Linked DNA regions of Homo sapiens. The protein of the gene in region 1 interacts with the protein of each later gene in a pairwise test. Each region holds a gene or a part of one and is shown in the gene's direction. Other genes may lie near its edges.

Evidence for each region.
Region 2: the proteins of PRPSAP2 (region 1) and ENDOV interact in a two-hybrid assay, tested with the Homo sapiens proteins (one large-scale study listed by IntAct).

Annotation. Positions count from the first base shown.
Region 1 is NC_000017.11:18,909,987-18,913,796, forward strand, and holds part of PRPSAP2 (phosphoribosyl pyrophosphate synthase-associated protein 2), read left to right. Parts: intron 1-1,116; coding exon 1,117-1,265; intron 1,266-3,810. UniProt on the Homo sapiens protein: Seems to play a negative regulatory role in 5-phosphoribose 1-diphosphate synthesis.
Region 2 is NC_000017.11:80,413,397-80,417,306, forward strand, and holds the start of ENDOV (endonuclease V), read left to right. Parts: upstream 1-1,770; 5' UTR 1,771-1,798; coding exon 1,799-1,854; exon of another isoform or gene 1,855-2,253; coding exon 2,254-2,425; intron 2,426-3,910.

The DNA of each region.
Region 1 (3,810 bases):
ACAACCGGAAAGCTCAGCAATACATAAATGGATACACTGTGATATATTCACCCAGCAGAATATTACTCAGCAATGAAAGGGAATGAACTATTGATATGTTATTCCATGGATGAATCTCCAAAACATGTGCTGCGTAAAATAAGACAAAATGGCCAGGCGCAAGTGGCTCACACCTGTAATCCCAGCACTTTGGGAGGTCGAGGTGGGTGGATCATTTCAGGTCAGGAGTTCGAGACCAGTCTGGCTAACATGGTAAAACCCCATCTGTACTAAAAATACAAAAAAGTTAGCCAGATGTGGTGGTGCATGACTGTAGTTCTGGCTATTTGAGAGGCTGAGGCAGGAGAATCGCTTGAACCCGGGAGGCAGAGGTTGCAGTGAACTGAGAAATCCTGCCACCACACTTCAGTCTGGGCGACAGAGCAAGACTCCATCTCAAAAAAAAATCAGACAAAAAAAGGCAACTTTATGATTTCACTTACGTGAAATTCTAGATAGGTGAAACTATAGTGACAGAAAGCAGATCAGCTGTTGCCTGGGGCAACACTTAGTGAAAAATCACTAAGGGGCATAAGGAGATGCTTGTGGTGATGACGTTCCTTATCTTGATTGTGCTAATGCTTATATGGGCACATACAGCCTTCAGAGCTCATGAAATTATATACTTTAGATATGCACAGTTTCTCATATCTCAGTTTTACCTCCCTAAAACTATTAAGAAATTTGTGCTTAATACTTTGGTGAGCATTTTATGCCCTTTGCCCCATGTAGTTGGTTCTCACTGGTAGGTAGGCAGGCAGGTAGAATTAGCAGCTTTAGGTGAGACAGAGCTGAGCGGAGGTTCCTTCACTCAGTCAGGCTCTCCCGGCCAGTGGCTTGCAGACCAGGCCAGGCTGCTGCCCTTCTTTGGTGCTGCTGCAGAGGGAAGTGTTTGGCATGTGGGGTCTCTACAGTTAGTCCTGGTTTCTAAGAGTCTAAGGCTGTTTTATTCTCTCTTTTCTTTAGTCCTTTGGGAGACAACATTCTACTTATGTTCTCTTAATGTTTTGTCCCCTAGGCATTAGCAGAACCAAGGGCTGCATGAGTTTTGAGCTTGTGTCTGGTGTTTTCCCTCAGGGCACAGTCTTTTGCTGAGCGCCTGCGCCTGGGAATTGCAGTGATTCATGGAGAGGCGCAGGATGCCGAGTCGGACTTGGTGGATGGACGGCATTCCCCACCCATGGTCAGAAGTGTGGCTGCCATCCACCCCAGCCTGGAGATCCCCAGTAAGTGTGCTGCTGCCTCTTTCCCACTTTCCTCTGATTTTAAGGCTGACTACACTGTTGTCTGTGTGGTTTTTTTCCTCATTCTTCGTTTTTTTTTAGTTGGCAAAAACTCATTAACACCTTTCTTGGCCAGATAGTAGCGAATGCATTTCTGATTACCTTGTAAATTGTAAGGCCGTTTAGAAGCAGTCTGTCCTTCTTTGCAAGACCTGTGAAAATGTTTGGACTATTGAGACAGTTGCAATGCTTCAGGGAAGTCCATTCATTCATTCAGCAGTATATACTAGAGTGTAGTTTAACATAAGCAAAAAGCTTTTTATATACAAAGTTATTGACTGTGATGTTGTTTTTAATGCAAAATATTAGAAAGGTTTAAATGGTTTACCAGAGTGTAGGGCTTGGTAAATTATACTGTGTCAGTACAGCTAATTATGCAGCCCTTTGAAATAATCAAGACTATCTGGAAACGAGAAAAATATATGGAATATATATGAACAAGGCAGAATATAAGATTGTATACCTATTTGTCTTAGTTCAGGCTGCTGTGATGAAATACCTTAGACTGGGTAATATAAACAACAAATTTATTGCTCACAGTTCTAGAGGCTGTGAAGGTCAAGATAAAGGCGCCAGCACTGACCCCGTGATGGGCCGGGCACGGTGGCTCACGCCTGTAATCCCAACACTTTGGGAGGCCGAGGCGGGTGAATCACCTGAGGTCAGGAGTTCGAGACCAGCCTGATCCACATGGAGAAACCCCCTCTCTACTAAAAATACAAAATTAGCCAAGTGTGGTGGCGTATGCCTGTAATCCCAGCTCCTTGGGAGGCTGAGGCAGGAGAATCGCTTGAACCCGGGAGACAGAGGTTGTGGTGAGCCGAGATCGCGCCATTGCACTCCAGCCTGGGCAACAAGAGTGAAACTCCTTCTCAGAAAAAAAAAAAGATAAAGGCGCCAGCAGATTTGGTGTCTGTCGAGGGCCTGTTCCTCGTAGATGGTACCTTCTTGCTGCATCCTCATGTGGTGGAGAAAGGTGGAAGACTCCCTCAAGCCTCTCTGACAAGGGCACTGACCCCCTTCGTAGAGCAGAGTCCTAACAAACTAGTCACCTAAAAGCCCTACCTCTTAATACCACCACAGTGGGTTCCAGCATGAATTTGGAAGGACACAAAAATTCAGACCATAGCATTTTGCCCCGGCCCCTCAAAATTCATGTTCATCTTACGTGCAAAATACATTCATTCTATCCTAATAGCCCCCAAAATGTTAACTCCGGGTAAGTCTTAACTTAATTTCAGCATCACCTCAAAAGTCTGAAGTCCAAAGTCCCATCTAAATATCATCTAAATCAAATATGGGTAAGACTCCAGCTCTGGGATTCACTCTGACGCACGTTTCTCTCCGGCTGTGAGCCTGTGAAATCAAACAGGTTGTATGCTTCCAAAATGCAATGGTGGGACAGACATTGGATAGACATTCCCATTCCAAAAAGGAGAAGTGAGGCCCAGTGTGGTGGTTCACGCTTGTAGTCCCAGCGTTTTGGGTAGCCAAGGTGGGAGGGTTGCTTGAGGCCAGGAGTTCGAGACCAAAAGGGAGAAGTAGGAAGAAAGAAAGGAGTGACAGGTCCTGACCAAGTCTAAAACCCAACCAGACAAACAACATTAAATCTTAAGGCTTAAGTTGACTCAAAGCCCCGCCTTCCACAAAAACTGGGGCAGGGGTTGGTCTTGCAAAGCTCTGGATGGCCCCACTCCCACAGCTTTGCTGGGAGCAGCCCATGCAGCAGCTCTCAGTCACTGGATTCTCATGCCTGCATCTCTCAGGCTGGAGTTGCACTCTAGTGGTTCTACCAGTCTTGGGTCTTGGGGTGGTCTTGCCCCACAACTCCACTGGGCATTGCCCTAGTGGGGTCTCTCTGGTGGCCCTGCCCTTGTGACAGTTCTCTGCTTGGGCCCTGGCACTCTTTGGGGCATCCTTTGAAGTCTGGGTAGAGGTAGATGTGCCCCCACAGCTCATTCACTCTGTGCACTGTGGAGATGGCCCTGCACGGACACCACTGTGGTTTGTTGCCTGTGCCTTCCAGAGGGGTGGCCCGAGCTATAGTTGGACCTGCTTGAGCTATAGCTGGAGTGGGTAAGGAGTATTCTGGAATGTGGGAAGTGGAGCCTTGAAATCGTTCTGCCCCCAAGACCCTGGCATTCTAGGCTTATGATGAGATGGGCAGTCACAAAGATCTCAGAAATGCCTTTGGGGTCATTGAGTCACTGTCTTGATGAATAGCGTCTGGTTCTTTTTTTTTTTTTTTTTTTTTTTTTGAGACAAGGTCTCACTCTGTCACCCAGGCTGGAGTGCAGTTGTGCGATCATGGCTCATTGCAGTCTCACCTCCTGGGCCCAAGCAGTCCTCCCACTTCAGCCTCATGAGTAGATGGAACTACAAGCACTTGCCACCGCACCTGGCTAATTTTTGTATTTTTTGTAGAGACAAAGTTTTACCATGTTGCCCAGGCTGGTCTTGAACTCCTGAGCTCAAGTGATCCACCCGC
Region 2 (3,910 bases), about 62 Mb from region 1:
AATTGCTCACTCGGGGAGCTCGGTTGTTGGAGACGTGAGTCTTGCCGAAGCTCCCAGCTGAATAAAGCCCTTCTTTAACTCGGTGTCTGAGGGGTTTTGTCTGCGGCTTGTCCTGCTACACTCTGGTGGGAAAGACACCGCAGCAGGGGAGCAGGGTGCGCAGGGTGCAGTGGGTGACGCTCATTCGCTGAAAACTGACCCTGCTTTCAAAGCCTTGTCAGTTCCCAAAGCTGTATGAAGCCTTTCCTGAGCCTCAACCTCTAGAGTCTAATTTCATCCTCTGTATTTTCCCCTTTGTTAGTCCAAACTGCGTCATTTTGTAAGCCCCTTTCCATTTTGTAGACCTTGGTCAAAGTGAAACATTCCACGGGGGTTCGAGCCATGAGAAACAGCCTGCCTCTTAACATATTCTGCTGGGACAAAGCGCCAGGAACACCACATTCTGCCGGAACCACCTCATCCTGGGAACACGTTAACATCTTCCCGGACAGCAAGCCATACTGCCTAGATCCCTCCTGCCCAGGCCTATGAGTACCCCAGCCTGTAATCGCTGGTGGGCTCTGGCATTAAGCTGGCCCCCGACAGGTGTTTGCAATACACCTGTGTTGCTGTAGAGCCGCCCGCGCGCCGGCAATCTCACTGTGCGTCATTCTTTAACCTTCACCTTCCCTTCAAAACCTAACACCCTTGACGTTTATATTCAGGCTATTATATATACATACACACATACACCCTTCTGAATCCTCCCAGGAGAATATAAAACCATGGGTTAAACTGCTACACTTCAGCTTCAGTGGCTGCCTTTCAGTGCTTCAAATACACCAACCTCTTTCCCACCCCGGGACCTGCACGAGAAAGCTGCTCCACTCACCCGCCGTGCTCTTTCACTCACCCTTCAGGTGTCTTCAATATCGCCTCTCAGGCCTTTCCCAACCACCGGTTTAAAGTCGGCTCCCCACAAATAAATACATATTCTCCCTCACAGTACTTCGCACAACACCTGGCACAGCGAGAGCACTGAACCAACACTCATTCAATGAGGAACACGAGGTAAGAACCAAGACCCCCCAAGGTCGCCGTACTTTGTCTGGTAGGAGAAGCTTTCTGCCCAGCAAGGTCCGACCCAGATGAAACCCCGTCCAAGTCTGCAGCACCCCCGTGAGTCCAGCCCGCTAAACTGTGAAGAATTTAAATACACGACACCTGCCCTCAAAAGCTTGAGGGCACCCCTGAGCTGCCATCGAGGTGGGGGCGTCAACGACAGGCGCTCAGTAAGTGCTCCTGAGGCAACTGCCGGGCTGTCCTGGACCTGGTGAATCCTTTCGGGGTTCAGCAAAGGCGGACGCTGACCGGGCCAAGGAGTGGGACCTGCAGTGCTGGACCACCCTTTTCCAAGCGCAGAAGTGCCGTGCCCGCCGGCTCTCAACAGGGCAAGAGGCCCCTCTCGCCGTGCAGAGCGCAGCGCTTGCGGCGGGGACAGCAGAGGCGGGACGGGCGTCACGGAGTTCCCGGGTCCTCGCGCGGTCACTTACCTGGCCTCAGCTATCCGCTGAAAAAGGGGCGGACGGCCTCCCGGGATCCGAGCCGATATCGCGCGCGGCGCCGCGGGGCAACCTGAAGCCGTGTGCGTGCGTGTGCGTTCACGCAGGGGCTCACCCAGCGGCCACGGGCTTCTGAAGACCCGGGTGGGAAGTGCGGCCCGGGAAAGCGCAAGCGTCTCCATGGCAACGAGGGCGGACGGCGTCAGAGCGAGTCGCTTCCGGAAGTGACGTGCGGAAGGGGTGCCCGGGACGAAGCCATGGCCCTGGAGGCGGCGGGAGGGCCGCCGGAGGAAACGCTGTCACTGTGGAAACGGTAATGCTGTCAGGCGACGCGCAGGAGGCGGGGGCCGAGGCCGGGCGGCCCTTCGCGGACCCTCCGAGCTCATAGTCTTCAGGCTGTGGAATCGGAGCTGCCACCGCCCGAGACTCCAAAGCAAAGCCCAGTTTCCGGCGCGGAAGCGGAGGGATCTCAGGAATTGTAGTCCGCGGGGTGGGCGCGGTTCTCGCTTCCGGCCAGTTTGTCTGGCCTGCGCTTGCGCGGGTCTCCGCCGCCTGGGCTCCTAGGGACTGTGGCCTCGGCGGTATGTCCCTTGCTTTCCCTTGAAGCGGGAGAAGACCCGGCAGAGGCGCTCTGTCCGCTGCAGCCGCGCGGGTGGAGGAGGCAGAGTCTGAGGTGTGACCCCGACCAAGTTTGACGCTTCTGTCCTCCTAGGGAGCAAGCTCGGCTGAAGGCCCACGTCGTAGACCGGGACACCGAGGCGTGGCAGCGAGACCCCGCCTTCTCGGGTCTGCAGAGGGTCGGGGGCGTTGACGTGTCCTTCGTGAAAGGGGACAGTGTCCGCGCTTGTGCTTCCCTGGTGGTGCTCAGCTTCCCTGAGCTCGAGGTAACCTGGGAGGACGCCGAGCTCGAGGCGGGCCCCTCGGTGGGCTCGGGCGTGCGGTCTCCGGGACAGGGAGCAGTGCAAGCGTAGAACCCGGCTTCTCGTTTTGTAGGATGTCATTAATAGTCTGGGGAGTTGGCCGGGCGCGGTGGCTCACGCCTGCAATCCCAGCACTTTGGGAGGCTGAGGCGGGGGAATCACCTGAGGTCGGGAGTTCGAGACCAGCCTGACCAACATGGAGAAACCCGGTCTCTACTAAAAATACAAAATTAGACGGGTGTGGTGGCATATACCTGTAATCCCAGCTACTCGGAAGGCTGAGGCGGGAGAATCGCTTGAACCCGGGAGGCGGAGGTTGCGGTGAGCCAACATCACGCCATTGCACTCCAGCCTCGGCAACAAGAGCGAAACTCCATCTCAAAAAAAAAAAAAAAAAAAAAAAGTCTGGGGAGTCTTGGAAGGGAAAAAAAGGCAAAAATTAAGGGAATTCTGTGACTATTAAGAATCAGCTCATGAGCTTTATCTTCAAGTCTGATTGTTATCTTGGGTTCTTCATCTCAGTGACCTGTCCACCACGCTCCCAGTTGCCCAAGCTGGAGATCTGCATCCTCCTGGGCCCCTCCGTTCCTCTCGCGTCCAGTTGCACACTAGCTCGCTTTTATTCTGCCTCTTAAATGTCGCTGGAATCTGTCCCCTTGTCTGTTTCCCCTCTGCTCCTTCCCTGGCTGTGCCACCATCACTCCTGTGGGTTCCTGAGCAGCATTTTCATGGGTGCCCTGGCTCAAATGTTCCTCCTCAGTGGTTTCTTTTCCATACTGCCAGCAGACCAATTTTCCTAAAAAGCAAGTATTTTCCTCAAAAGCAACAAGTCCCCTCCCTCCCTCCCTCCCTCCCTTCCTTCCTTCCTTCCTTCCTCCCTTCCTTCCTCTCTCTGTCTCTCTTTCCTTCCTTTCCCCTTCCCCCACTCTGTGCCCAGGCTGAAGTGCAGTGGCATAATCTTGGCTCACTGTCAAGATCTGATCTCAACCTCCTGGACTCAAGTGATCCTCCCACCTTAGCCTGAGTAGCTAGGACCACAGGTGTGAGCCACTACACCCGGCTTATTTTTTTATTTTTTGTAGAGACAGGATCTCACTATGTTGCCCAGGGTGGTCTCCAGCTCCTGGGCTCAAGGGATCCTCCTACCTTGGCCTCCCCAAGTGCTGAGATTACAGGTGGGAACCACCACACCCAGCCCACAAGTCCTCTTAGAACATTGAAGTGCCCTTCTCATGACCTCATGGTGAATAAAGTTCACTCTGGTTGGCATGGCTTCAAGGCCCGTCATGACCTGTCCCCTGCGTAATTTAATATGACGCTGGAGGCTCAGCCCTCACCACTATTCTCAGTTCTTCCCACCTCCTACAGCCCACTGTGAGTCCCTCACGTGTTTGCTACGCTGTATTTGGCGGCCTGACCTTTGCAGTAATGTTTCTTCTGGAAGGGTTT